Linked DNA regions of Homo sapiens: region 2 is linked to region 1. Evidence: fine-mapped expression QTL. A gene starts in region 1. The other region holds a variant in brackets. All regions are shown on one strand. Distances are between the middles of the regions.

Region 1 (5,214 bases):
GGCTCTGGGCGGAGGCCTGCGGCCATGCCAAACTCCAAGTAGGGCAAAAAATGCCCCACTTCTCTTCGGATTTCTTGCTGGGCTCACTTATTGGCTAAACCCAGCAGGAAATGCTGGGCAAGGGAGGTTTGCGTGTTGTTTAACCTCTGATTCAGTTTCCTCATCTGTAAAATGGGAGCAACAGTAACCCCCTCTCTTAAGGCACTGCGACGATCAAGTGAGTTAATCTGCATAGAGTGCCTGTCACAGGGCCCGCACGTAGTGTTTGGAAAGTGTTTCCTATTCTTATTGGCACTGATAGCCTGGGCTAGGGGCTCCTGTGGGAGGCAGATACAAGTTTCCCCTCATGGAGCCTGTGCTTTGTTGGGAGTCATGGGTGGAATGAATCCCCCTCCTCCCAGCCTGGGGGTGCTCTCCTCATTGCCTTCCACTCCCCGGCAGCTGAGATAGTGCTGAGGCTGTTGGCTGGGGCAGGGCCTAGGCTGCGAGGTGGCCCCATCGTGGGCACACTAGCCCTGCACCCCTGGGCATTGGTGCGTCCGCCAAGAAATGTTTAGGTTTCCATTCTCAGCCTGGTTTCTTCCCCCTCAGGGCCCAGCAAGAAAGAACAGCCCCTTCTGGCCTTCCTGCTGGGGGACAGAGGCTCCCAGAGCCACTTCTGAGTTGGGGTACAGACTTCGGTGGCTCATCAGATGAAAGGAGGTGCAGAGAGAGCCTGAAGTTGGCTCTGTGATCCCGACTTGGCTGTCACTGGCCTGCTGGGTGTCCCTGGGCTACTTCCTTCCCCTCTCTGGGCCTCAGGACCCATATGTGAGCTCCCAGGGCCAGCCCTGTGGACACTTGTAGAGTCTGGGGAAAGGTTCCGGGCATAAGTGGGGGGCATGGGAATCGGCCTCCCCTGCTCCTCATGTTACTTCCTTAAGTCATCACAATAGCCCTGAAAAGCAAAGGCCTCATCTCCATGGCACAGGTGATGAAACAGGAAGACTGAAGCCCAGGCCTGGCCGGCCCACGGCCACATTCAGGCCAACAGACCATCCCTCCTTCCACAGAGGAGAAGCGCATCTACCGGGTGCCTGTTTTCACAGCGCCCTTCTGCCAGGCCCTGCTGGAAGAGCTGGAGCACTTCGAGCAATCGGACATGCCTAAGGGGAGGCCCAACACCATGAACAACTACGGGGTGGGTGAGGCCTGGCCGGTGGCAGAGGAGGGGGTGGCTGGGGTCAGGAGGCAGTGTCAGAGGTTCTGCAGATGGGCTGCCTGCCCGGGCTGCGAAAGAAGGTCACAGTGGGATCACCGTGGAGTGGAAGCCCAGGGTTGCAGCCCTCTAGTTTCCTTGCTGACCCCAGGAATCCCCTCCCAGGTGCTGCTGCACGAGCTCGGGCTGGACGAGCCGCTGATGACACCACTGCGGGAGCGCTTCCTGCAGCCGCTGATGGCCCTGCTGTACCCTGACTGTGGCGGGGGCCGGCTCGACAGCCACCGGGCCTTTGTGGTCAAATACGCACCGGGCCAGGACCTGGAGCTGGGCTGCCACTATGATAATGCCGAGCTCACCCTCAATGTGGCCTTGGGCAAGGTCTTCACAGGGGGCGCCCTGTATTTTGGGGGCCTCTTCCAGGTGAGTGTGTGACCCATGCGGCAGGGCCTGGGGCAGCTGTGAGTGCCCAGGCCTGAGTCGTGCCATCTGCAGGCACCCACAGCCCTGACGGAGCCCCTGGAGGTGGAGCACGTGGTGGGCCAGGGTGTCCTCCACCGTGGCGGCCAGCTGCATGGAGCCCGGCCCTTGGGCACTGGTGAGCGTTGGAACCTTGTCGTCTGGCTCCGAGCCTCTGCTGTGCGCAACAGCCTCTGTCCCATGTGCTGCCGTGAGCCCGACCTGGTGGACGATGAGGGCTTCGGTGATGGCTTCACCCGAGAGGAGCCCGCCACGGTGGATGTATGTGCGCTCACCTGAGCTTGCTTGGGCCCAGTGTGGGGGTGGCAGGCAGGTGAGGGCTCCGTTGCCTTGGTCTGGGGGCAGAAATAAAATCCCCGCAGCCTACTGCACTTCTTGGCTCAACGGTGTGCCAGCTTCTGGGTCATTCTATGGGCAAAGATGCTGCCTTAGTTCAGGTTTGTCAGAAGCAGGGTCTGGAATGGGGCTTCAGCGAGGGAGTCAGGGAAGCAGGGGAGGGGAGGGAGCAGCTGGGCAAGGAAGTGGCTTCAGAGGACGTCCAGCCTCAGCTGGCCCCACGGAGAGCTCCAGGCAGAGCCCACAGTACCACAGTGTGCCCACACCACCGGTTACTGGCTCCTGGATGAGGGGGCCAGAGAGGAGTGAATAACTTCCCAGACACTTATCTCCAGGGCAGGGTGCCTTCCAGTAGCCAAGGGAAGCCTCCAGAGAGCACAGATGTGAACCCTCAGCAGCAGGCATCACCCCCCAGTGGACTCGGGTGGGCCACCAGTAGCATCTTCTAGATGGCAGAGGGGTGAATGGCAGGGCCAGGAACCAGGCTGCCCGGGTTCCCATTCTGCTTCTGCCACTTCCAGCTGTGTGGCTTTAGGTGAGCCTTCACCTTTTGGTGCCTTCGTTTCCTCATTTAGCACCTACCTCCTAGAGCTGTTTTGGGAGTCAAATGCGCTGACGTATATAAAGTGCTTTGCAAGATCCCTTTGTGTTTGCGGCTGTCATTGTGGAAGAGTTGCAACTTGGGGGCCCGAGATTGGATGAAGCGCACAGCCACGCTTTGGGTTACACATTTGAAACTCAGGGGGCTTCCATATTGCAGTCTTGAGTTTGGTCTCCCTGGGAAGGTGGGGCACCAGCCCCATGCCACGTTGCACGTATCAGCTGGAGCAGAATCCTGGCTTCCTTCCGGATGGGCCTGGGGTCCATGCCCGCGCTCACTGCCAAGATCTTTCTGGCCCCTACGGACACGAGTTTGCGACCTCTGAGTCACTGGGTGGGCGCGTCGGAAAGACCAGGGCGCCTCAGTCTGGAGCTCGCAGTCGTATGGAGAGGGCAGGACCAGCCGGGGAGGAGGGCGGCGCGCGCGAGGGTCGCCTTCTTCCCAGGGCACCGGGGGCGTGGGTGCTGCGGGCGTGCGCCGAGAGGGCAGCCTTGGAAGTGGGCGCAGCTTCGGCAGACACAGGCGTGAGGGGCTGCGGAGCTCGAGGGCCGGCGCCCCTGCTTGCCTCTGCGGGAGGTGGGCGCGCCCGGGACGGAACCTGGGGCGTCAGAACGAAAGGCAGCGGCGCCGCGCTTCCCAGCCGGCCAGCCTCCCGCGCAGCGCCCCGGCCGGAAGCCTCCTCGCCGCCGCTTCCTCTCGAGAAGGCGCGGGGCGGGCTGTCCGGCCCGCAGGGCGGTCGAGGTGGGAACGGAGCAGCCCCGGGGGCCCCCTTGAGGCGGCGAGGCCGCGAAGGGCGCGGGGCTGGAGGGTAGGAGAGCGCGGGAAAGCGCCCCAGACGCCACTCGCGGCGGACGGCGGCCAGTTCCCAGGGGTTTGGAGCCGGGTGCGCAGGCGTGGGGCCTCCGGGCACGGGGCGGGCCCTTAACAGGCACCGCTGCGGGGACTGGAGTCGGCGGAGAAAACCGGGGTCCCCAGCGCTGGGGGTGGGTGAGGGTCGCTCATTTTCCCGGGACGGTGACGGGTACTGGGCGTCGCCAGGCCCCGGCCCCGCTAGAGCCACCCTTGGAGCCCGCCCGCGGCCGGCCTTGGGGGCTTCGGCTCAAGCGCGTCTTCTTCGTCGCCAGCCCGCGGCGCCATGGCTCACGTCGGCTCCCGCAAGCGCTCGAGGAGTCGCAGCCGGTCCCGGGGACGGGGGTCGGAAAAGAGAAAGAAGAAGAGCAGGAAAGACACCTCGAGGAACTGCTCGGCCTCCACATCCCAAGGTCGCAAGGCCAGCACGGCCCCTGGGGCGGAGGGTGAGGACCACAGGCATCGGGGAGAGGAGGCGCAGTTACTACCCGGGGAAGTCGGGCGAGCAGTGGTCGGGGACGCTCAGTCATGCCTCTGTGCAGCCGGGCCTGAGATGTGAGGGCCAGGCGCCGCAGGAGCCAGGAAGGGGCTCCTCTGGGAAGCTCCATCTCTGTTCTGGAAAGCCCCTCAGGAAGCGCTCACCCTGTAGCCGGTCTGTGCCTGCCCCAGGCCAGAGCAGGGGACGAAGGTTTACCTCTTCCCCTCCTGGCCTTCCAGCCTCACCTTCTCCCTGCATCACAGAGAGAAGCAAGCAGAAGGCCCGGAGGAGAACAAGATCCAGCTCCTCCTCCTCTTCTTCCAGTTCTTCTAGCTCCTCTTCTTCCTCCTCGTCCTCCTCCTCTTCCTCCAGTGATGGCCGGAAGAAGCGGGGGAAGTACAAGGACAAGAGGAGGAAGAAGAAGAAGAAGAGGAAGAAGCTGAAGAAGAAGGGCAAGGAGAAGGCGGAAGCACAGCAGGTGGAGGCTCTGCCGGGCCCCTCGCTGGACCAGTGGCACCGATCAGCTGGGGAGGAAGAGGATGGCCCAGGTACTGTGCTGCCCAGCACCTGAGAGGGAGAAGGTCGCTTCCCAAGGCCTGGCCACCACCTCCGTCTTCCCTTCCAGTCCTGACGGATGAGCAGAAGTCCCGAATCCAGGCCATGAAGCCCATGACCAAGGAGGAGTGGGATGCCCGGCAGAGCATCATCCGCAAGGTGGTGGACCCTGAGACGGGGCGCACCAGGTGGGGAGCTTTCGGCCTGACTTACACCACAGGATCTGGGAGTGTTGGCTGAAGATGTGTGCTCTCGGGAGGAGTGGGGCCGGGCGGGGTTCCTGGTGCCTGAAAAAGGCCAAATGTGGGCAAAAATACGGTCACTTGGAGTAAGTAGTTGCAGGGGCTGGAAGGGCCTGGAGGAGGCTCTTGAAAGGGCTGTTGTTGGCCGGGCTGAGGCTGGCAAGGCAGAGCCCAGCTCCACTGCCTTCATCAGGGAGAGTGGGTGAGGCCCCAGGGTCTGTCCACTCAAGGCTGCGGGGTGGGAGCCCTGGGACCCCTCTGCCGGCTGCTTGTGGTTCTGCTCCTCTGGCATTAGGGGACCTGCCTATTCCTTGCTGAACGGAGACCCTCCCACCCCCAGGCTTATTAAGGGAGATGGCGAGGTCCTAGAGGAAATCGTAACCAAAGAACGACACAGAGAGATCAACAAGGTGGGTGTGGCCCCTCTGCCTGCCATCCGCCCCCAGCTCTGTTTGTGATGTACCCCTCCTCCTGT
Region 2 (5,473 bases), 20 kb before region 1:
ATTAGACATGAGCCACTGCACCCAGCTCTCCCGTTCTTTTCAGCATCTAAAATGTCAGGAAATAAGGACTCCAACAATCCTTGTTGCACAGAGGAGGGAAGTGAGGCTCAGAAAGGCTGGAGAACTTACGCAGGGCCACTCGGCTGGGTAGGGAGCAGGACAGGGATTTGTGCCCAGGCCTCGTTGCCCCCAGAACCTGTGAGCTCCAACCATGCAGTGCCACCTTCCCACCCATGTTGCTGAGTGGTGCCTTCAAACTGTTTGGACCAGACTCACAGGCACAAATACATTTCATGTCACAAACCAGGCCACACCTGCACGTAGGCACACACAACTAAAATATTAATATCTTTTTTTTTTTTTTTTGGTCTCAAACTGCTGAGAGTTTTTTTTTTTTTTCGTTATCTGCCTGCCTCGGCCTCCCAAAGCGCTGGGATTACAGGCATGAGCCACCATGCCTGCCCACTCTGATGTTTTCTAGTCTATTCTCTGATGATCCCAGCTCCAGGAATTTATTCTACAGATCCATCCACATTCATATGAAATGTGTATGAACAGAATTATTGACGTGCAGGTCGGGCGCAGTGGCTCATGCCTGTAATCCCAGCACCTTGGGAGGCCAAGGCAGGCAGATCGCTTGAACTCAGGAGTTTGAGACTAGCCTGGCCAACATGGTGAAACCCTGTCTCTACTAAAAATACAAAAATTAGCCAGACGTGGTGGCAGGCGCCTGTAATCCCAGCTGCTTGGGTGGCTGAGGCAGGAGAATCGCTTGAACCCAGGAGATGGAGGTTGCGGTGAGCCAAGATCGCACCACTGCATTCCAGCCTGGGTGACAGAGCAAGACTCCATCTCAAAAAAAAAAAAAAAAAAAAAATTCATGTTAAGAGGAAAAGGCTCAAAATAACCCAAGAGTCAAATGATGGGAGACCAACTAAATAATCTATGGTATAGCCGCACAATGGAATATTATGAAGCCAAATAAAACAATGAGGTACTGGTTGGAAAAATTCCAGAACATATTGTTAAGTGAAAAGAGCAAAACATAAAACAATGTGGGTGAGAGGTGGGGGAGTGATGCATGTTCTTTTGATGTGCTTGTAGCTGCATAAGGAAAAGCTGGGAACATGCACAAGAATTGAGTAAGAAAGAATGCTTTCCTGGCCACCTGGGAGTTTCTGGGTCCTTTTCCTGCAGTTAGCCCTGGGCAGAATGATCAGGGTAGAATTAGAAGTGAAACACAGCCAGGCATTGTGGCTTGCGCCTGTAATCCCAGTGCTTTGAGAGGCCAAGGTGGGAGGATCACTTGAGCCCAGGAGTTCGAGATCAGCCTGGACAACATAGTGAGATCCTATCTTTACAAATTTTTCTTTTTTTAATTAGCTGGGTGTGGTGCACGCCCCTGTAGTCCCAGCTATTTGGAAGACTGAGGTGGGGGGATTACTTGAGCCTGGGAGGTTGAAGCTGCCGTAAGCTGTGATCATGCCACTGCACTACAGCCTGGGCAACAGAGTGAGACCCTGTCTAAAAAAAGAAAAAAACAGGAGTGGAACTCATAGTTTCCTTTTTCTTCTCTTGTCTTTTACTTTTTCCTTTTTTAAATTGAGATGGGGTCTTGTCATATTGCCCAGGCTGGTCTTGAACTCCTGGGCTCAGGCAATCTTCCCACCTTGGCCTCCCAAAGTGCTGGGATTACAGGCGTGAGCCACCGCGCCTGGCCTATTTTTTCGTTTTAAATTACATAAAATAGAAATGGGGCAGGCACCGTGGCTCACGCCTGTAATCCCAGCACTTTGGGAGGCCGAGGCCAGTGGATCACCTGAGGTCAGGAGTTCAAGACCAGCCTGGCCAACATGGCGAAAACCTGTTTCTACTAAAAATACAAAAATTAGTTGGGTGTGGTGGCATATGCCTGTAGTCCCAGCTACTTGAGAGGCTGAGGCAGGAGAATCACTTGAAGCTGGGAGGCAGAGGTTGCAGTGACCTGAGATTGTGCCACTGCACTCTAGCCTAGGTGACAGAGCAATACTATGTTTCGAAAAAATAAATAAATACAATAAATAAATAAATAAATAAAATAGAAATGGGTTCTCGCTATGTTGCCCAGGCTGGTTTTCAACTCCTGGGCTCAAGTGATCTTCCTACCTCAGCCTCCCAAAGTGCTGGGATTATAGATATGAGCCACTATGCCTGGCCTCTTTTCCTTTTCATATCAATTTGATGTCTGAACCACGTAAGTAAAATCTTTTAAAATCTAAGGCAGTCATATCCACCTAATTTGATGTTCTGGTGGCCACATGTCCCCGAGGTCCTTACTTACCCAGAGCTGCCACGATGAGGAAGAAGGAGGCGGCCACGAGGAAGGCCACGTCGGGCTTGGTGTAGGAGAGCAGCTTCTGCAGCGTGGCCCCAGACGCCTGCTCGGGCGGTGGCCGGCCGCTCCCAGGGAAGCCCTCAGCCTCGGTGGCCGCCCCTGGCTCCAGGGCCTGGGTGCCTGGCCGCACGGTGGACAGCAGCCACCAGAGCAGGAAGGATGCGCCGAGTGAAATGTACGTCCACACGAACAGGGCCCAAAACCAGGGGTCCCGGATGGGCCTGCGCACCTCTGAGAAGAGCAGCAGCTTCACCATGGCATAGATGCCCACGAAGAGGCACACGAGGGTGATGACCAGCCACGAGGCCCGCAGCCGCCGGGGCCCCAGCGCACTGTTCTTGGCCACACCAATGGTGGCTCCCAGCAGCAGGCAGCTGCGGTACAGGCAGGCTGCCCAGAGATCCAGCACCGAGTCAAAGATGTTGAAGTGGCGGATGTCCTCCAGGAGGCTGCGGTCCAGGTGGCTGAAGACATAGATGGCCGTGGTCACGCAGATGTCCACACTCATGAAGGCCAAAGTCACCACCACCGCCTTCCACAGCCGCATCCTGCTGGTTGGAGGTGGGCGGGTGCTGAAGGCCAGGTTGTAGCTCACGGGGGCAAGGCCATCATCATCCACAGGGCGAGGCCAGGCCTGTAGGGACAACAGCAAACATCAGCACAAGGGGTTCAGGTTTGCCACTCGCTGGCTGTGTGACCTTGAGAAAGTCACTTGACATCTCTGAGCCT[TAGTTTTCTC/T]ATCTGTAAAATGGCAATATCAACTTCCCGGGTACTAAGATTCCACTCATTCAAGGGATACTTACTGAGTGCCCACTGCGGCCAGGTGCTGTTCTTTGTTCTTTGTCATGAACAAAAAGAACAAAGATCCCTGCTCTCCTGGAGATGACATACTCATGCAGGAGACAGATAATAAGGAAATGGGCTCACGCCTGTAATCCCAGCACTTTGGGAGGCCGAGGTAGGTGGATCACCTGAGGTCAGGAGTTGAAGACCAGCCTGGCCAACATGGTGAAACCCCCATCTCTACTAAAAATACAAAATTTAGCTGGGTGACAGAGCGAGACTCCATCTCAAAAAAAAAAAAAAAAGATAATAAGGAAATAATGTGTGTCTTGTGAGGCCAAGGTTGGAGGATCCCTTGAGGCCAGGAGTTGGAGAGCAGCCTGGGCAACAGGGTGAGACCCTGTCTTTAAAAAGCAAACAAACAAACAAACAAACAAACATTAACTGAGTGTGGTAGCATGCTCCTGTAGTCCAAGCTACTTGGGAGGCCAAGATGGGAGGATCGCTTCTTCAGCCTGGGAGTTCGAGGCCACAGTGAGCTATGATCATGCCACTACACTCCAGCCCTGGTGACAGCAAGATCCTATCTCTAAAAAAAAAAATTTTTTTTAATTAAAAAAAGAGATAAGGGTTGTGGTGGAAAAAAGAGGGGGGTAAATAGGATGGGGTGAGGGTGAATAGGATAGGGGTGGGGGAAGACAGAGATCAATTTTATTTTATTTATTTATTTATTTGAGACAGAGTCTTGCTCTGTCGCCCAGGCTGGAGTACAGTGGTGCGATCCCGGCTCACCGCAACCTCCGTCTCCCTGGTTCAAGCGATTCTCCTGCCTCAGCCCCCCAAGTAGCTGGGACTACAGGTACCCCACCACCATGACCAGCTAACTTTTTGTATTTTTTTTAGTAGAGACGGGGTTTCACCATGTTGGCCAGGCTGTTCTCAAACTCCTGACCTCAAGTGATCCACATGCCTCAGTAACCCAAAGTCTGGGATCAAAAGCGTGAGCCACTGTGCGGGGCCAGAGATCAATTTTAAATAGGGGGCCAGAGAAGACCTCGCTGGGTAGGTAACACTTGAGCAAGACTTGAAAGAGTTATGGAAGTCTGCCAAGTGGCTATCTGGGGAAAAGCACTTGGCACAGGTGAAACAGTGCCAGAGCCCCAAGGCAGGAGTGCCCCTTGGGAAGGCAGCAAGGCCCCATGAGATCAGAGAGGGTGGGGAGTATCTGGAGGATTTTGCATCCATAGTGAGGACGAAGCTGAGATAAGCAGAGTTTAATAAACAGCCGCTGTCTTTACTACCACTACTCATTTCTCTGAACCTGTTTCCTCATTTGCAAAATGTGAGTGTGAGGTTCAATGTGTCAGTTCTGGGCAGAGTGCCTGGTGCATAATTGCTGCTGATTGTAATCAACCATATACAGTGTGTGCTTAATAAATGTTTGTCCACTTTTCTCCTCCCACGTCAGGCCTTCTATCTCTGCAACCCCAAATAAACTATTTTGGTCTAAGAGGGAACTTGACAGCTGTGGGGGTGGCTTGCAGGCCACACAGCAATCCAGAAACCTTGGCATCTGCTTGGAAGTTTCCAGAATCTTTTCCTCCTGCCCAGGTTGGCCCTCGTGCCCAGCCCTAGGCCCCTTTGGTTTTCTGAATCTTGATGTCTGCTTTATCCAAGGCATCTCCCGGCACTGGGTCCCTCAGGACTCCCCCAGAGCCGCAGGGACACCCGGGAAGTGGGCCTGGAGGCCTGAGTTTGTGAGTGGGGCTTGTCCACGGTAGGGTTAGGACCGGGCTGGGGTGTGTCCCTGGGTGCTACCTCCTGTCTCAGCTCCAGTCCTTCCTCCCGTGGGCCTTTTGTTGTCATATCTGCAAAATGGGCTGGGCTCTAGATCCCCCAAGAGGAGGGGTGAGGCGCTGGGTGACAGCGGGGATGACTGTCGTGGCTGGGAAGGGGCCATCCTGAGAGAGATCCTCTCCCCGAAGCTCTGGCGCCCAGGTGCCCAAACCGCTCACACTGTGGCATGACTGGAACCTCACACAGTCCCACGAGGCCAGGGTTTCCATATTCCCGTTTACAGTTAGGGAAACTGAGGCACAGAGAGACAAAACCACCTGATCCAGACATTCAGCCAACAAGGGCCCAAGCCAGGATGACTTGAGGCAGTCAGTGAGTGTAGGACCCCAGCATCTGCCTCTCCACCTGTCTACTGCATGCCTGGCACAAAGCAGTTGTCTAATAACTACAAGCAGACAGGGATGTAACACTGCACTTCCTGTGAGCCCTGCCCTGCACCATGTGCTTCAAATCCAGGTG

The links.
Region 2: its variant is fine-mapped to the expression of ARL6IP4 in whole blood (TOPMed, PIP 0.99).

What each region holds. Positions count from the first base shown.
Region 1 is chr12:122,977,390-122,982,603 of GRCh38, forward strand. It overlaps ARL6IP4 (ARF like GTPase 6 interacting protein 4), which reads left to right and starts at 3,292. Exons shown (of 6, transcript NM_018694.4): 1 at 3,292-3,356; 2 at 3,740-3,910; 3 at 4,182-4,490; 4 at 4,568-4,685; 5 at 5,080-5,149. The coding sequence starts at 3,751. It overlaps OGFOD2 (2-oxoglutarate and iron dependent oxygenase domain containing 2), which reads left to right. Exons shown (of 7, transcript NM_001304833.2): 5 at 1,053-1,180; 6 at 1,364-1,621; 7 at 1,694-2,653. The coding sequence ends at 1,957. RefSeq lists enhancers at 2,489-2,708, 2,865-3,370, 3,371-3,876 and silencers at 2,959-3,598, 3,609-3,708.
Region 2 is chr12:122,957,315-122,962,787 of GRCh38, forward strand. It overlaps ABCB9 (ATP binding cassette subfamily B member 9), which reads right to left. Exons shown (of 12, transcript NM_019625.4): 2 at 2,321-3,008. The coding sequence starts at 2,921. Among named protein-coding and RNA genes, the nearest start is that of ABCB9, 6.4 kb to the right of the region's middle. The variant TAGTTTTCTC/T (reference allele first, on the strand shown) is at 3,104.